Regions from separate parts of the Homo sapiens genome. Here region 2 is linked to region 1. A link means that fine-mapping ties the variant in region 1 to the expression of a gene that starts in the linked region. Tissue or cell type: monocytes after interferon gamma. Region 1 holds a variant in brackets; the other region holds the start of a gene. All regions are shown on one strand. Distances are from middle to middle.

Region 1 (7,700 bases):
TCATCATTCATATTTCTTCTCTACCTTCATGAACATGTGGAATATATTTATGCTAGCTGTATTAATATCCTTGTCCTGCTAATTTCACATTTCTGTCCTTTCTGAGTCTGCTTCTATTGACTGATTTTTTTTTCCTGAAGTGCGTTACATATTTCTGTCTTTTTGGAATACCTGGTAATTTTTGGTATTCCATTAAATATTATAAGACTTTGGGGATGCAGTTAAGTTAGCTATAATCTATTATATCCTTGCAAATCTTGCTTTTAAGCATTGTTAGCATGTACAAGAACAGATTTTAATGTTAGGCTAATTTAGCTCCACTTTCATGGTGATACTATTCTGAAGACCCTATCTGATGCCATATGTATTTATTGAGAGGTCTTTTTACCTTGTTTATTGGGAATATATGAACTGTTTCTGTATGAGCTTTGAGAATTGTTTAATACGTTGCTTTCCAGGTTCATTTCTTGGTGTTCAGTAATTTCCACTCATGTGCAGCTCAAAACCCAGACAAAAGTTGAGGACATCACTGTGAAATTCTCTAGAGCAGAGGTGGACAAACGGCAGCTAACTGACTAAATCCCACCTGCTACTTGTTACTGTAATTAAAGTTTTATTGTAACATAGCCATTCTCATTCATTTACATATATTTTTCTGCTTTTACATTATAATAGCATCATTGGATAGTTATGATGCAGATCATATGGCCTGCAAAGCCTAAAATACTTATCTGCTCCTTACAGAAAATATTTGTTAACTCCCACTTTAGAGTTTTTTCTCTGTGTGGCATTTTCCTCTCTGGTAATCTGCCCTGCAAATTATAGCTGCCCTGGGATCCCTGAAGTCTGATTTTCGTCTCCTTGATTCCTAGGCTCTGTTTGGGTTACTTCTCTATGTATTATAGCCTGGAAATGGCCCCCATGCAGGAAGCCAGGGCAATCAAAGGGTTCATTTCATTTGTTTTTCTTCCCTTGGGGCTCACAGTTCTGTACTGGCTGTTACTCAATTTCTGGAAACCATTGATTCTTATTTTGTTCAGTTTTCTAGTTGCTTAAGTGGGGAATGGTCAATCTGGTCTTGTTATTGTATAATGGTCATATGCAGGAGAAGCAGCAGAATATTTTGAGACTTGTTTTTGTTGTTTTGTATATCAAGAATTAGTTGCTTTATATTGCTATGTAATATTCCATTTGTTTGAATATAAATGCTCCTCAATTTATTTGATGGGGCATGTCTAGATAAACCCATCATAAGTTGAAAATACCATAAGTCAAAAATTCATTTAATATACCTAACCTGCTGAACATCATAATTTAGTATAGGCTTCCTTAATACAAGTACTCAGAACACTTACATTAGCCCAGCATCATGAGAGAGCATCCTATTGCATGTTGCTAGCCCAGGAAAAGATCAAAATTCGAATTACAGTTTCTACTGAATGCCTGTTGATTTTGCGTCATCATGAAGTCAAAAACTTGTAAGTCAAACCGTCATAAGTCAGGGAATGTGTGTATATCTGTTTAGCAATTCTCTTGTTGGGGAATACCTGAGCTGTTTATAGTTTTTGACTATTACTAGTAAAGCAGCTGGCTGGGCACAGTGGCTCATGCCTGTAATCCTAGCACTTTCAGTCATATTTAATGTTGTCAATCTTTTTAATTTTAGTTATTTTGGTGATGATTGATAGTATCTCATTGTAATTTAGATTTTTATTTCCTGGAGAACTAATGGTTTTCAGCATTTTTTATTCATTCGTTTGCCTTTTTTCTTTTCTTTTGGGATGGAGTCTCGCTCTGTCGCCCAGGCTGGAGTACAGTGGCGCGACCTCAGCTCACTGCAAGCTCCGCCTCCCGGGTTCACGCTATTCTCCTGCCTCAGCCTCCCAAGCTGCTGGGATTACAGGCACCCACCACCATGCCCGGCTAATTTTTGGTATTTTTAGTAGAGACGGGGTTTCACCGTGTTGGCCAGGCTGGTCTCAATCTCCTGACCTCGTGATCCGCCTGTCTCGGCCTCCCAAAGTGCTGGGATTACAGGCATGAGCCACTGCGTCCGGCCTCGTTTGCCTTTTTTATATCTCTTTTTGTGATGACTCTATTAAAATCTTATGTCCATTAAAAAAATTGAGTTGTTTGTGCTTTTACTATTGATTTGTAAAATGTTTTACAATGTGTTGAACATAAGTCCTTTGTCAGACATCTGTTTTATGAATAATTTCTCTTGTCTGTGGCTCACTTTTTCTTTTTCTTAGTAATGTTTTTTGATGAACTGAAGTTATAAATTTTGATGAAGTCAGATTTATGAATGTTTTTCTTTTAAGGTAATTTTTGTGTCCTATCTAAGGAACCTTTTCCTTCCCCCAAGTCACAACGATAATTCTCCTGTTTAGAAACTTTGTAGTTTTTGCATTTATAGTTGGGTTCCTGATCCATCTTGTATTAATTTTTATGTATGGTATACAGTACCTGTTTGGGTTTCTTTTTTGCATGTGAACATTTAGTTGTATTTGTAGAGAATACTTTTCTTCATTGGATTGCTTTCACATATTTGGTGCCTTTGTTGAAAATCAATTGACTGCATATAAGTTTAGGTCTATTTCTGTTTTCCTTATTCTGTTTCAATAACTTATCTTGATTACTATAGTAATTCTTGAATTAAGGTAGTATAAGTGTTCCAATTCTTTTTCTTTTTCAAGATTGCTTTTTGCATATCCTTAACATTTTAGATTCAGTTTGTCAGTTTTTACAAAAATTCTTGGTAAAAGTATAATTGATATTCTGATTGGATCTATAGATCAATGTGGGGAGAATTAAGATCTAAAATACTGAGTCTTCCACTACATGTACATGGTATGCTTCATTTATTTAGGGCCTCTTTATCTCAGCAATGTTTTGTAGTTTTCAGTGGTTTGTGTTAGACTTATTGTCATTTTTTTCCCTAAGTATTTTATGTGTGGGATGCTCTTTTCAAGGAAATAGTTATTTCAAATCTCATTTTCTATTGCTTAATCCTGGTATGTATATTTTTACATTGGGCTTGCGTGCGATGAGCTTTTCTATTTTACTTATTGAGTAGTCGTTTTTAGATTTTTTAGGATTGTTTATATAAACAATTGTGTTAACTGCATTTAGAGACAGTTTTACTTCTCTGCCTTTTATTTCTGTTACTTGCCCTATTGCAGTGCCTTATTCCCCACCTAAGAGAGAAATCATTTAGTCTTTTGACATTATATGTCATACTAGCTGTAGAATTTTCATGAATGTCTTTCATCAGATTGAGGAAAGTTCCTTCCATTTCTAGAGTACTGAAATTTTTGAAAAGTTATGAGTAGATGTTGAATTCTGTCAAGTGCTTTTTCTGTGTTTATTAAATATCATTTTTCTTCTTTATACTGTTAGTGATTTAAATTGATTCATTTTTATATATTAACTTTGCATTCTTGTGATAAATTCTACATGGTTATGATATATGTGAATTCAATTTGATAATATTTTTATTAAGGATTTTTGTGTCTGTATTCATCAGGGATATGGCTCTATACTTTTCCTGTAGATGTCTTTGTTTAGCTTTGGAGTAATATAATGTTTTTATCAGTAATGCTAGCAATGGTTTTGTTAGCGTCATTGGCTTCACTTGAAAGTGGGGTCTACTACCTTATGTTTGAAAGAGTTTGTATGAAATTAATGTTTTTTTTTTATGTGTTTCTATAGGGTTCAGTAGTGAAACCATCTGGGACTCTAATTTGTTTGTATATAGGTTTTTTATAAACTCAGTTAAAAAATCTACTCAGCTTTTCTCTATTTTTTTTAGTAAGTTGTATTTTTCAAAGAATTTGAGAATTTCATCTAAAGTGTATTTGTTGACATAAAGTTGTTTATAATATTTTCTTAATTCTTTAAATGCCTATAAGAGTTACACTGCTAATTTTTAGCAAATTCCCAGCACTCTGCCTTTAATCTTGATTAGTCTAGGTAGATGTTGTTGATCTAGTCACTGAACCGGTTTTTTCTTAAACAGTTATTGAAGTATAATTTACATACAATAAAATCCACTCACATTAAGCATATGATTTAATAATTTTTTAGTAATATTAAAGAGATCTGCAACCATAATCTTGTTTTAGAATAGTTTATCACCTGCAGAAGATGCCTTGTGATAGTTGATAGTTACTTCTGCTTTCACTC[C/T]GAGCCCTAGGCAACCACTTCTCTACTTTCTGTTTCTGTATAGTTATCTTTTTTGACATTTTCTATAAATAGAATAATACAAAATGTAGTCTTTTGAGCCTAGCTTCTTTGACTTAGTGTAAAGTTTTTGTGCTTCATCCTTGTTTTAGTGTGGCTTTGTTAGACTTTAGTATGAGGATAATATTGACCCCATAAAATGTTTTGGAAAATATTCCCTTGTCCTCTGCTTTCTAGAAGAGTTTCTGAACCATTGGTATTATTTTTTCTTGAAATATTTGATGGAATTTACCAGTGAACCATCTGGTTTTGGCTTTTATTAATGAGAGGATTTCCAAATACTGTTTCAATTTCTTTACTAATAATAAGCCTATTCACACTTCCTTTTTCTATCCCCGTTTCTTTTTCCTTCCTCTCTTTTCCCTCCCTCTCTTCCTTTCCTCCCCTTGCCTCCCCTTCCCCATTCTCCTATTCCTTTTTCTTTTTCCTTCATTCCTTGTCTTGATATTTTGAGTATTCCTAGAAATTGGTCAGTTTCTTCTAAGTTGAATTTCTGTAGGGTCAGGATCACGTTCACTCTTTTATTTCTTATTTTGGTAGTTTTGTTCCTTCTCTTTTTTTTCCCTTGGCACATCAACCTAGCGGTGTGACAGTCTTGTTGATCTTTTCAAAGAATCAACCTTGGTTTTAAGAATTTTTAAAAAATTTTTTTTGATTTCCATTTCATTGATCTCCATTCTAATATTTATGGTTGTCCTTCTGCTTATAAGCTTTGCTCTTCTTTTCCTAATTTCTTAAGGTGGAAACTTGGGTTATTTATTTGAGGTCTTTCTTCTTTTCTAAAAATAGGCATTTAAAGCTATAATACCTCTACATACTGCTTTTGCTACAATAATATGTTGTATTTTCATATTCATACAATTGGATACATTTTTAAATTTTTTCTTGTGATTTCTTGTTTGACCATGGATTATTTAGAGGTTGTTGTTCTAATTTAATTCCACTTTGGTTTGAGGGCATGCTTTGTATGATCCCAATTTTTAAAATTTACCGTTACTTATGTTATGGCCAAATATATTTTTTATTGTGGAGAATGTTCCACAAGTACTTGAAATTTTATTCTATATTTGGGAAGAATGTGTTAGATGTTAGTTACATCATGTTGCTTGATGGTTATGTTGAAGTCTTCTGTGTCCTTACAGATTTTCTGTCTAGTTTGTCTATCAATTATTGAGTGGAGTTTTGAAATCTCTGACTATTATTGTTGAATTGTTTATTTCTCTCTCAATTCTGTCCAGCGTTGCTTCATGTATTTTGAGACTCCTTTTGTATGTTTATAATTTTTATATCTTCATGATATTGACCCTTTTATCATTATGAAATGCTTTTGTCTCTAGTAACAGTTTTTGTCTTAAAGACTTGTTTTATTTGCCGGGCACGGTGGCTCACACCTGTAATCCCCAGCACTTTGGGAGGCCGAGGCGGGCGGATCATGAGGACAGGAGATCGAGACCATCCTGGCTAACACGGTGAAACCCCGTCTCTACTAAAAATACAAAAAATTAGCTGGGTGTGTTGGCGGGCACCTGTAGTTCCAGCTACTCAGGAGGCTGAGGCAGGAGAATGGCATGAACCCAGGAGGCGGAGGTTGCAGTGAGCCAAGATCGCACCACTGCAGTCTGGCCTGGGTGAAAGAGTGAGACAACGTCTCAAAAAAAAAAAAAAAAAGACTTGTTTTATTTTAGTACAGCTACTTCAGCTCTCTTATGGTTATTGTTTACATTGTTTATCTTGTTTCACACTTTTGCTTTCAACCTATTTTATATCTTTGATTCTAATGTGTGCTGGATGTTTTTCATTTGGATAGTCTTTGTTTTTATAGTGTTCAAGCTATTTACGTTTAATGTTTGTTTTGTATATTTCTCATGGTGCTTTTTGTTCTTCTCTTCCTCATTTATTGCTCTTTTTTGTGTTAAATAGATATTTTCTTGTGCACATTTAAATTATTTTCTTTTTACTATGCATATTTTTAAGTGTTTTTATATTGGTTGACCTAGGGTTACAATATGCATATTGACTTATTACAATTGACTTCATATTAATACTAATTCAGTGTTAGTAATATGTAGAATATTTAATTCTGTATAGCTTCATTCCTTTTCCTCTCCTGGAGAGTGCCATTGTCATATGTATTATATTTTATATGCTGTAAGATTAACCATACAGTTTTACAGGTTTTTTTTTGTAGCTGTTTTGTAAATTTGTTAAGAGGAATAAAGAGAGAAAAGTTTTTATTCAGTCTTTTAGATTTGTCTATGTAATTACCTCTTGAGTATTCTTCATTTCTTTGTGAGAATTTGAGTTACTGCTTGGTATCATTTCCTTTTAGCCTGCAGGACATCTTTACTATTTTTACAGATTCCTCAGTCTTTACCTGGGAATGTCTTTATTCTGCCTCAGTTTTGTAGGGTAGTTTATTTGGATAAAGAATTCTTGGTTTAGTGTTTTTCTTTTAGCCGTTTGAATATATCGTTCCACTACCTTCTGACTTCTATGGTTTCTGATGCTAAGTCAGCTGTTAGTCTCATTGAGGGTCCATTGTGTGTGATAAGTATTTTCTCTTTTGCTGCTTTTAAGATTTTCTCTTTGTGTTCATCTTTCTGTATTTTTAGGGCCCAGCAGGGCTTTAACTTTACTAATTTTGTCACCCTTTTTGGGCTTTAGCATGAACTGGTAGTTTAGATTTTCATTGTGTTTTAAAAATAGTTACAGCCTGAATTTATTTTTATATGATTCCCTCAAGTTTTATATAATTTTCCTCAAGCTTTTATTGCCATGTAATTCAATAATACCTCTCTGAGGAATGACTACTTAAGCATCTTTGTTATAAGAAATGGTGATACCGTGTTAATTTTTTTGTTTTACTTCATGTTGTGGCGTTATGTACTGTTGCTTTCAGATTTTTTTCTTGCTTCATGGGATTTCATAAACATATCCCCTATAGATGTATTTACTCTATATATGTCACATAAAAACACATATAAAAATAAGGCTTATAATAATTAAAGTATTGACTTTTCTGGAGGACTATATAATCTTAATAAGATGTTTTCCTTTTGATAAATATTGAATGATAATCTTTAAGACTAGGTAAAAGATACCATAGTATATTTAGTATTTGCATTGAGACATGTATTAGTCTCTTTAAGAGTTAATGTCTATAAATATTTAACTCTGGACTATGTCACTGTCAAGTAATATTTTGGGCTAGAGTTCCCCACTGAGTATCTAATTTTGTTGCCTTATTCTTTTAGAAGTGTTACTGTGAGCAATAGCCAGGCAACTGAAAGAAAGAAGGTGAGTGGGACCCAAAAAGAAGGACAAAAACAGATGGAAAGGAAATAAAATAATAAGAAATTTCTTAAACAGTGTTTGTTTTGGATAGTTTTCTTGTTAAGCACATGGAAATACTTTGCACATTTGAGAATCACTGACTTACATGCTATTTTGGAGAAACA
Region 2 (7,700 bases), 110 kb before region 1:
GCTACTATAAAGACACATGCACATGTATGTTTATTGCAGCACTATTCACAATAGCAAAGACTTGGAACCAACCCAAATGTCCATCAGTGATAGACTGGATTAAGAAAATGTGGCACATATACACCATGGAATACTACGCAGCCATGAAAAAGGATGAGTTCATGTTCTTTGTAGCGACATGGATGAAACTGGAAACCATCATTCTGAGCAAACTATCACAAGGACAGAAAACCAAACACCGCATGTTCTCACTCATAGGTAGGAGTTGAACACTGAGAACACTTGGACATAGGGCAGGGAACATTACACACCGGGGCCTGACGTGGGGTGGGGAGATGGGGGAGGGATAGCATTAGGAGAAATACCTAATGTAAATGACGAGTTAATGGGTGCAGCAAACCAACACAACACATGTATACATATGTAACAAACCTGCATGTTGTGCACATGTACCCTATAACTTAAAGTATAATAATAAAAAACCTAAAAAAAATAAAGTAGTAAAACAAAAACAATACATAGGAAGCGTAAGTTTCATATGTATAGCATATAGAAAAATGCATAATTTTGAAGTTCAGAAAATGAAAAAAATTTGTTCTTAGTCAACAAAAATTCATAAAGAAAAAGAATTTGTAAACATATGAAGGTTCACCTTGGATGAACACGTTGGAAGGAACTTAAGCATGATTGAATTTTTGTGTTGAGACGAATGTGTTTTTAACCTTTCAAAATTATATGTTATGGTTGATAAATTATTTTCTCCTAAAAAAAAAAAGAAATGTAGGAAACTTGAGTTTGGTGGTTTTCTACATAGGCTGAGGTTCCATTTGAATTAGGAACCTGGTGCCGTCAGTGCTTTCCTCCTCAAAGCTCTCTGACCATTCCATGTTATTCATCCCCACCAGTGATAATGATGTACATTTCAGAGCTTCTGTAATGTATGAGGCATTGTATTAGGGCCTTTATGTATGTCTATGTCATGTAATTTAATCATTACAGCAATTTTATGAAGTGTATTATATGCAAGAAGGAAACAGGAACGGGAGGATTGGAAATTTGCTTCAAACACAGGTCTGACTGATGTAAAAGAAGGTTGGGCTCTTATTATTATATTGTCCCGCCTCTTTTAGATAATACTACTGCCAGTATCCTAATGCTACCATTAATAATGGCCAGCAGTTACTAAGCTCTTACTCTATGCTAGGTGTTTTAAATGAAGTATCTTTTATTCTTTACAAGTACTATCCTGAACTTAGAATTGGGAAAACTGAGGCTCAAGGTCATATAAATCATGTGATGAAGCCAGCACTTGAATTCAGCTCTCTTGGTACTAGAGACCAAATCTATAAGTGCTATTTTCTACTGTCTTTAGGTCCATAAGTAAAGCTTATCTGACAGATTTCCAAGTCAGCTGTTGCTACCATGCTTCCAAGTTAGTAGTTTCCCACCTAGGAAAAGGATAAAGCTTGTAGCATTGCTGCTTCTCACAATCTTTAGTGCTTTCTTTGCCTTAATCTTAAGTTTTGGGAGAAAGGAAAAGCAATTCACTTCGCAACGTGGTTGGGGTCTCATCTTCAAAGACGTAATTAAAACTGTCCTGGATAGCTGGGCATCATTACAGGCTCATGCCTGTAATCCCAGCACTTTGGGAGCCTGAGGTAGGAGGACTGCTTGAGCCCAGGAATTCAAGACCAGCCTGGGCAACATAGTGAGATCCCATTTCTTAAAAAAATAAAATAAAAAATTAGCTGGGACTGGTGGCTAGTGCCTGAGGTCCCAGCTACTTAGAAGGCTGAGGTGGGAGGATGACTTGAGCCCAGGAGTTCAAGGCTGCAATGAATTGTGATCGGGCCACTGCACTCTAGCCTGGGCAACAGAAGGAGATCCTGTTTCAAAACAAACAAACAAACACACAAAAATTGTCCTAGTGGCAATAAACTATAATGCCATCTGAGTGGATGACCTCAATGTAGTATTGGCTAAAAATTTTATTTGCACATATGACATATTCATTCTTTCACCAGAAGTTTCTTGTATGTTATCAGCTGAGCTTACATGACTATGCAGTTATAAAGAAGTATAAAGCACAGGCTATTAAATGGTCCAAAATATAAAGTACTAGAGTTGCCTTTGTTCTTGAAGAGCTTCACTCTGAATCATGTAACTGGTCTGGATGTGGTCTTTCAATAAGACAATAGCAGCAGCATAATAAGCCTCCGGGTCAGCATAGTAGCATAGTATTTGGTGTTACCTATTTTAGTAAGTTTATGTTTGGTTAACTCCTGTTGAGGAACAATATTATGATCAAAGAGATGATATGGTTTATTTATTAGATGAATCCTTGATGTCTTCATACTAATGTAAAGCTCTGTCACAGCCTGCTTTGATCTGCTGGTTCCTGGGTGTGGTATCCAGCTGTTTGTCAGCATCCCTCTCTATACCCATGGAAATCCCAACTGTATTTTTGGGTTTTGGGTTCCCTACCAGGTTCACTGTTTAAAAATGTGAATTGAATATTACTTTTTATTGAAAAGAACACAAGTTCTATGATGAGTTAAAATTACTATAAATGTTTATAGCTTATACTCATTGTATCAGATTATTTGAAAAATCTAGTTTGCATGTTCCCTTCTGATGGAGTTTGGGTCAGATGAAGGTGGTTACAAAAAATGTTTGACACTAAAAATTTTCACATTACACTATTGTTTGATAGTCATTCATTAATTCTTCACTTAGTCTACTTACTCATTAAGAATCAACAAATCTTTATTTTGGAGATGAATAAGATGTGTCCTTTACAGTGGGAAAGCTTATTATTTAATAGAGCTGTTTACAGACTTCAATTTGCCTTCTTGATAAATGTGATGAACATGGTTTACAATTTACAAAGATATTCAGGCTATCAGATCTTGGAATTGCAGAACTAAATTTTTCTGTATGTATTCTTATATGATTTTTTCCTAGGTATTTGGGGAAATAAATACTGTCTGATGGAGTAGATAGCTTTTTCATATTTTGTATCTGCGAATGCATATTATCAGCTGAGCTGACATGACTATGCAATTATAAAGAAGTATAAAGCACAGGCTATTAAATGGTCCAAAAGAAAGTAAGTACACCGCTCATAAATCTTTGAAATCATGGGAATGTTTCCAGACAGAACAAGATGGAATTTATCTTCCTAATTGTGACACAGTACCTTGAAAAATGCAACTGGGTGCGTGGAGATAAGGCTTTGTATAATTTGCCATTTTAAAAGTTCCCCTGTCAAATTCAAGGTATTAAGTTGCTTTATGGAAGGCTAAGACCAAGCCCTAGATGCAAGACCGGGGGAACTGACTGCCGGAACGTTTGTGTTGCAGCGCCTCGCCCCTTGCCGGTGCTCTTTCGCGAAGGGACCGTCTCTGCCAAGCGCCTGTTGGTAGGAACCTGCTTGGTCGCGTCTGAGGGGGCTTGTAGGTGGCTCTGGCTGAAACAGGCGCCTGCGAGAGTCTGTAGGAGGGAAACCGCCATGGACGATCAGGGTTGCCCTCGGTGTAAGACCACCAAATATCGGAACCCCTCCTTGAAGCTGATGGTGAATGTGTGCGGACACACTCTGTGAGTTGGGCGGCAGTGGATTCCCTGGGGGAGAGACGCGCTGGGTGGGAGGAGAGGACCGGGAGATGCTAGGCCTCGTCTTGGGAGCAAAGGGCGTTGTTAGTTTCAACACTGGGGAGGAAAATGGGAAAAGAAGGCGTTGTGACTTTAAATAGACTGTAGCCGCTAGCCCCGAGCGGCTCTGGCCTGCTTTGAACTGCGGGTTCTCAGTGTGGCATCCAGCAGTTTGTCAGGTTCCCCCTTCCATAGCCAATGAGTATCCCGACTGTATTTCCAGGCTTTGTGTTGTTTACTGGGCTCTGGACATCGCTGATTAAAAGCGTGGGGGATTGGAGTGTTTATTTCATATGAAATGTTTTTATTGAAAAAGTGCGAAAGTGCTATGAAAACTTAAAATTTGCTTGAGTATATACTGCTGCTATTTATTGTATGAGTTAATTAAAAAACCCTGTGTGTATGCCCACTTGTCCTGATGGAGTTCGGTTAGACTCCCATCACTAAAATGAAGAAAACCCGGACTGTAGGTAGTTAATTTTGAAGATATAATAATGGCTGGCATTTGAGTGCACATTTTGTGCCAGACAGTGTTCTAAGCGCCTTACCATGAATTATCTCAGTTCATTCCTACAACAGTCCCATGAAGTAGATACTGGTATTTCCATTTCACAGGGAAGGAAATCGAGACTGCTCAAGGTCCCTTATTAAGTGGGCCTTGAGAGAATTGGAACCCAGGAAGTCTGACTTTAGAACGCCCATTTTCAGGGGAAGGGGGCAGAAGGAGGGAGGTTGAGTTTGTGTATTTTGAAACAGGGATTGGTCAAAGTGTTTCTTGCCAGATTTCTTGTCAGATGTGGTTTAGTGAAGGTGGTTCTAGAAAGCACTTTGAGATAAAAAGGTGCCATGTAATGGCGAGCATATATTCCTGTAGTTTCTTTCAGGTTTATTGGAGGCAAAAAATAATGGATAATCTACAGTGTGTAGACAAGGTCTCCTCCCAACCCCCCAAGTGCTGACAAAAATGTAGAGCAATGACAGGGTCTTTAGGTAAGCATAAATTGCATGATTAGCTGTAGCTATAATTATTATATGGAATTTATTAGCTTACTTAACTTTTCTAATTGATCTTTATTTTCCTTTGCTTTACTCTGCAAAGAAGTATAGTAGAGCTGTGATTGAATGATTTAAGATTAGAAGTAAGGTAAAAGTAATCAAGAAGAATGCATGGAAAAGGGAATTCTACATGGAAAAACACTGTAGATAGACTGTTTTTAGAGAGATTTCGTTCAATTTCTCTCCATTTTTCTTTATCAGGTTTGTTATGGTGGAACAGGAAAGAGAGTTTGTTTTTTTTTTTGGGAAGGATACTAACTAAATGTAATTTACCAGAAGGATGCTAAATGTAATTTTCTGGCCTAGCAGCACTTAGCCATTCAGGGAAGATTATACGATTTCAGTAACATAAATGGCATTTTAATTGGGCAAGTATAAAATATTTATTTTAATTGAAATTGCTTTTGTTGTATCCTCAGCCCTTTTTGTTAAGATCTAAGAGTTAAGACTTTTGTCTAATTCATTCTGGTGTTGCATTTAATGTGGTTAATTTGCTAACCTGTTAGATAACAGGCTACATTTTACAGTCCTTTTTTGACTTGAAATGTGAACAAAATGAGTGAAAAGCTGTAGCGTATTGGCTGAGAGAACAAGCTTTGGAATGAGCCTGTCTGATTTCACATTCTTTACTCTTACCGGCTCTGTGGCCTTAGGGAAATGACTAACTCTTTGTTAGCCGTTCTTCTTGTTGGTACAATAGAGAAAATAGTGCTGCTTGTATCACGGTCCTTAAGTATTAAATAATATATGGAAAATATTTAGAGATATTTAGTATTCTGTCACATAATATTTGTTTACTATATATTGGCTATTTTATTATTATTATTCTTTGTGTGGCATGGGTGATAAGCAGAAATAAAATTAAAACAGGACTTATTTGGCCTGCTATGAAATACTTGCACAATAATGATTAGCTTTAAATGATTTCAGTACACTATGAAATGTGAAAATACAGCTTTAATTATAAGGACTCTGTTGTAATTTTCTTAATATGAACTCTTTAGCATGTTGTCTAATTAATCATCCTTTTAAAGAAGTACTTTAATCTAGGCTAACACACTGCTGTTTCTGAATGGAGGAGAGAACTCACTGATTTTTTTGGCAATCATTTAAAAAATTTAAAATTATATAAGCTATTAATAATAAAAGCAACGTAAGTTATTAAGTGAAAGGTAAAAATTTCTGTGGTTCACTTCTCCAGAGGTGACAACTTTTAGGTTGTTTGTGTATATTTTCGGATATTTTCTATGCATATACAAACATGGGTGTGTTTGGGTAGAAAACTTTTTCTTCCTTTAGCATAAACAGGAATATAGCATAAACATATATATATGTGTGTATATATATATATTTCCTTGCTTTTTTCATTATGTATATTGGATAATCTCTCTAGATCAATATGCATATGTTTTCCTCTTTTAACAATTTGATAGTAGTCCATTGTTCAAATATAATTTATTTACCCCAATTTTTAAAATTAATATTTAATTATCCAGTTTTTCCTTGGAGTAAGCATCCATAAATATGCATATATATGTACATATATGTCTTTGAGCATTTAGGCCAGTATATCATAAGATATAACAGGTAAAAATCACAAGGTAATGTCCAGTAGTAGAATTGTTGGGTCAGAGTTTGTGGCTTTTAAATTTGATAAATATGGCCCAGTTGTTCTCAAAAAAGATTATGTCAAGACAGGCATGGTTGTTCCTACCTGTAATCCTAGCTACTTGGGAGGCTGAGGAGGGAGGGTTCGAGACCAACTTGGACAACATAGGGAAACCCTATCCTTTTTTTTTTTTTTTGAGAAGGAGTCTCGCTCTGTCGCCCAGGCTAGAGTGCAGTGGCGCAATCTCGGCTCACTGCAAGCTCCGCCTCCCGGGTTCACGCCATTGTCCTGCCTCAGCCTCCCGAGTAGCTGGGACTACAGGCGCCCGCTACCACGCCCGGCTAATTTTTTTGTATTTTTAGTAGAGACGGGGTTTCAGCGTGTTAGCCAGGAGGGAAACCCTATCTTACAAAAAAAAAAAAAAAAAGATCTTGTCAATTATGTTACCAACAACTGTATGGAGATTCCTATTGCCACACAACTTTGCCTATATTGGCTAATATTATTTTTTAAAATCTTGCATTTTAAAAGATGTTTAAAAGCATCTTATCAGATGCTTTTCTGATAAGAAAAACATCTTGGATTTTTTTTTTTTTTTTTTTTGAGACGAAGTTTTGCTCTGTCACACAAGCTGGAGTGCCGTGGCATGATCTAGGCTCACTGCAACCTCCACCTCCCAGGTTCAAGTGATTCTCCTGCCTCAGACTCCCGAGTAGCTGGGACTACAGTCGCATGCCACCATGCCCGGCTAATTTTTGTATTTTTAGTAGAGACGGGGTTTCACTATGTTGGCCAGGCTGGTCTCGAACTACTGACTTCGTGATCCAGCCGCCTCGATCCTCCCAAAGTGCTGGGATTACAGGTGTGAGCCACTGCGCCCGGCCTGAGATGGAGTTTTGCTCTTGTTGCCCAGGCTGGAGTGCAATGGCGTGATAGCTCACCACAACCTCTGCCTCCCGGGTTCAAGCAGTTCTCCTGTCTCAGCCTTCCGAGTAGCTGGGATTACAGACATGCGCCACTACCTCTGGCTAATTTTGTAGTTTTAGTAGAGATGGGGTTTCTCCATGTTGGTCAGGCTGGTCTTGAACTCCCGACCTCAGGTGATCCACCCGCTTTGGCATCCCAAAGTGCTGAGATTACAGGCGTGAGCCACCGTGTCCAGCCTCATTTTGGCTCTTAATGAAAAATTTTTTGATAGTTTGTTGAGTTTTTATGGCATATATTTCATGGGATTGAATATAGGCATTTTTATAATATGCTTGTTAGTCTGAGAAGAGCAGGTATTATTTTGCTGAATGATTCTGGCTCGGTCTTAGGATGTTGTAATCAAGTTGTTGGCTAGGACTGCAGTCTAGATTTGACTGGGCCTGGAGTATCTGTT

Which allele goes with the higher level. Positions count from the first base shown, and alleles are read on the strand shown. Sizes are in standard deviations (SD) of each study's normalised expression.
For the expression in monocytes after interferon gamma of the gene that starts at base 3,410 in region 2, C is the low allele of the variant in region 1 and T is the other (large effect, 0.85 SD a copy in Fairfax 2014).

What was found. PIP is the estimated chance that this variant, and not a neighbour inherited with it, causes the effect.
Region 2: it holds the start of MNAT1, and the variant in region 1 is fine-mapped to the expression of MNAT1 in monocytes after interferon gamma (Fairfax 2014, PIP 0.95).

Annotation. Positions count from the first base shown.
Region 1 is chr14:60,841,511-60,849,210 of GRCh38, forward strand. All of the region lies in intron 6 of MNAT1 (MNAT1 component of CDK activating kinase), which reads left to right. Among named protein-coding and RNA genes, the nearest start is that of MNAT1, 110 kb to the left of the region's middle. The variant C/T (reference allele first, on the strand shown) is at 4,186.
Region 2 is chr14:60,731,352-60,739,051 of GRCh38, forward strand. It overlaps MNAT1 (MNAT1 component of CDK activating kinase), which reads left to right and starts at 3,410. Exons shown (of 8, transcript NM_002431.4): 1 at 3,410-3,600. The coding sequence starts at 3,512. RefSeq lists enhancers at 3,424-3,523, 3,634-3,703.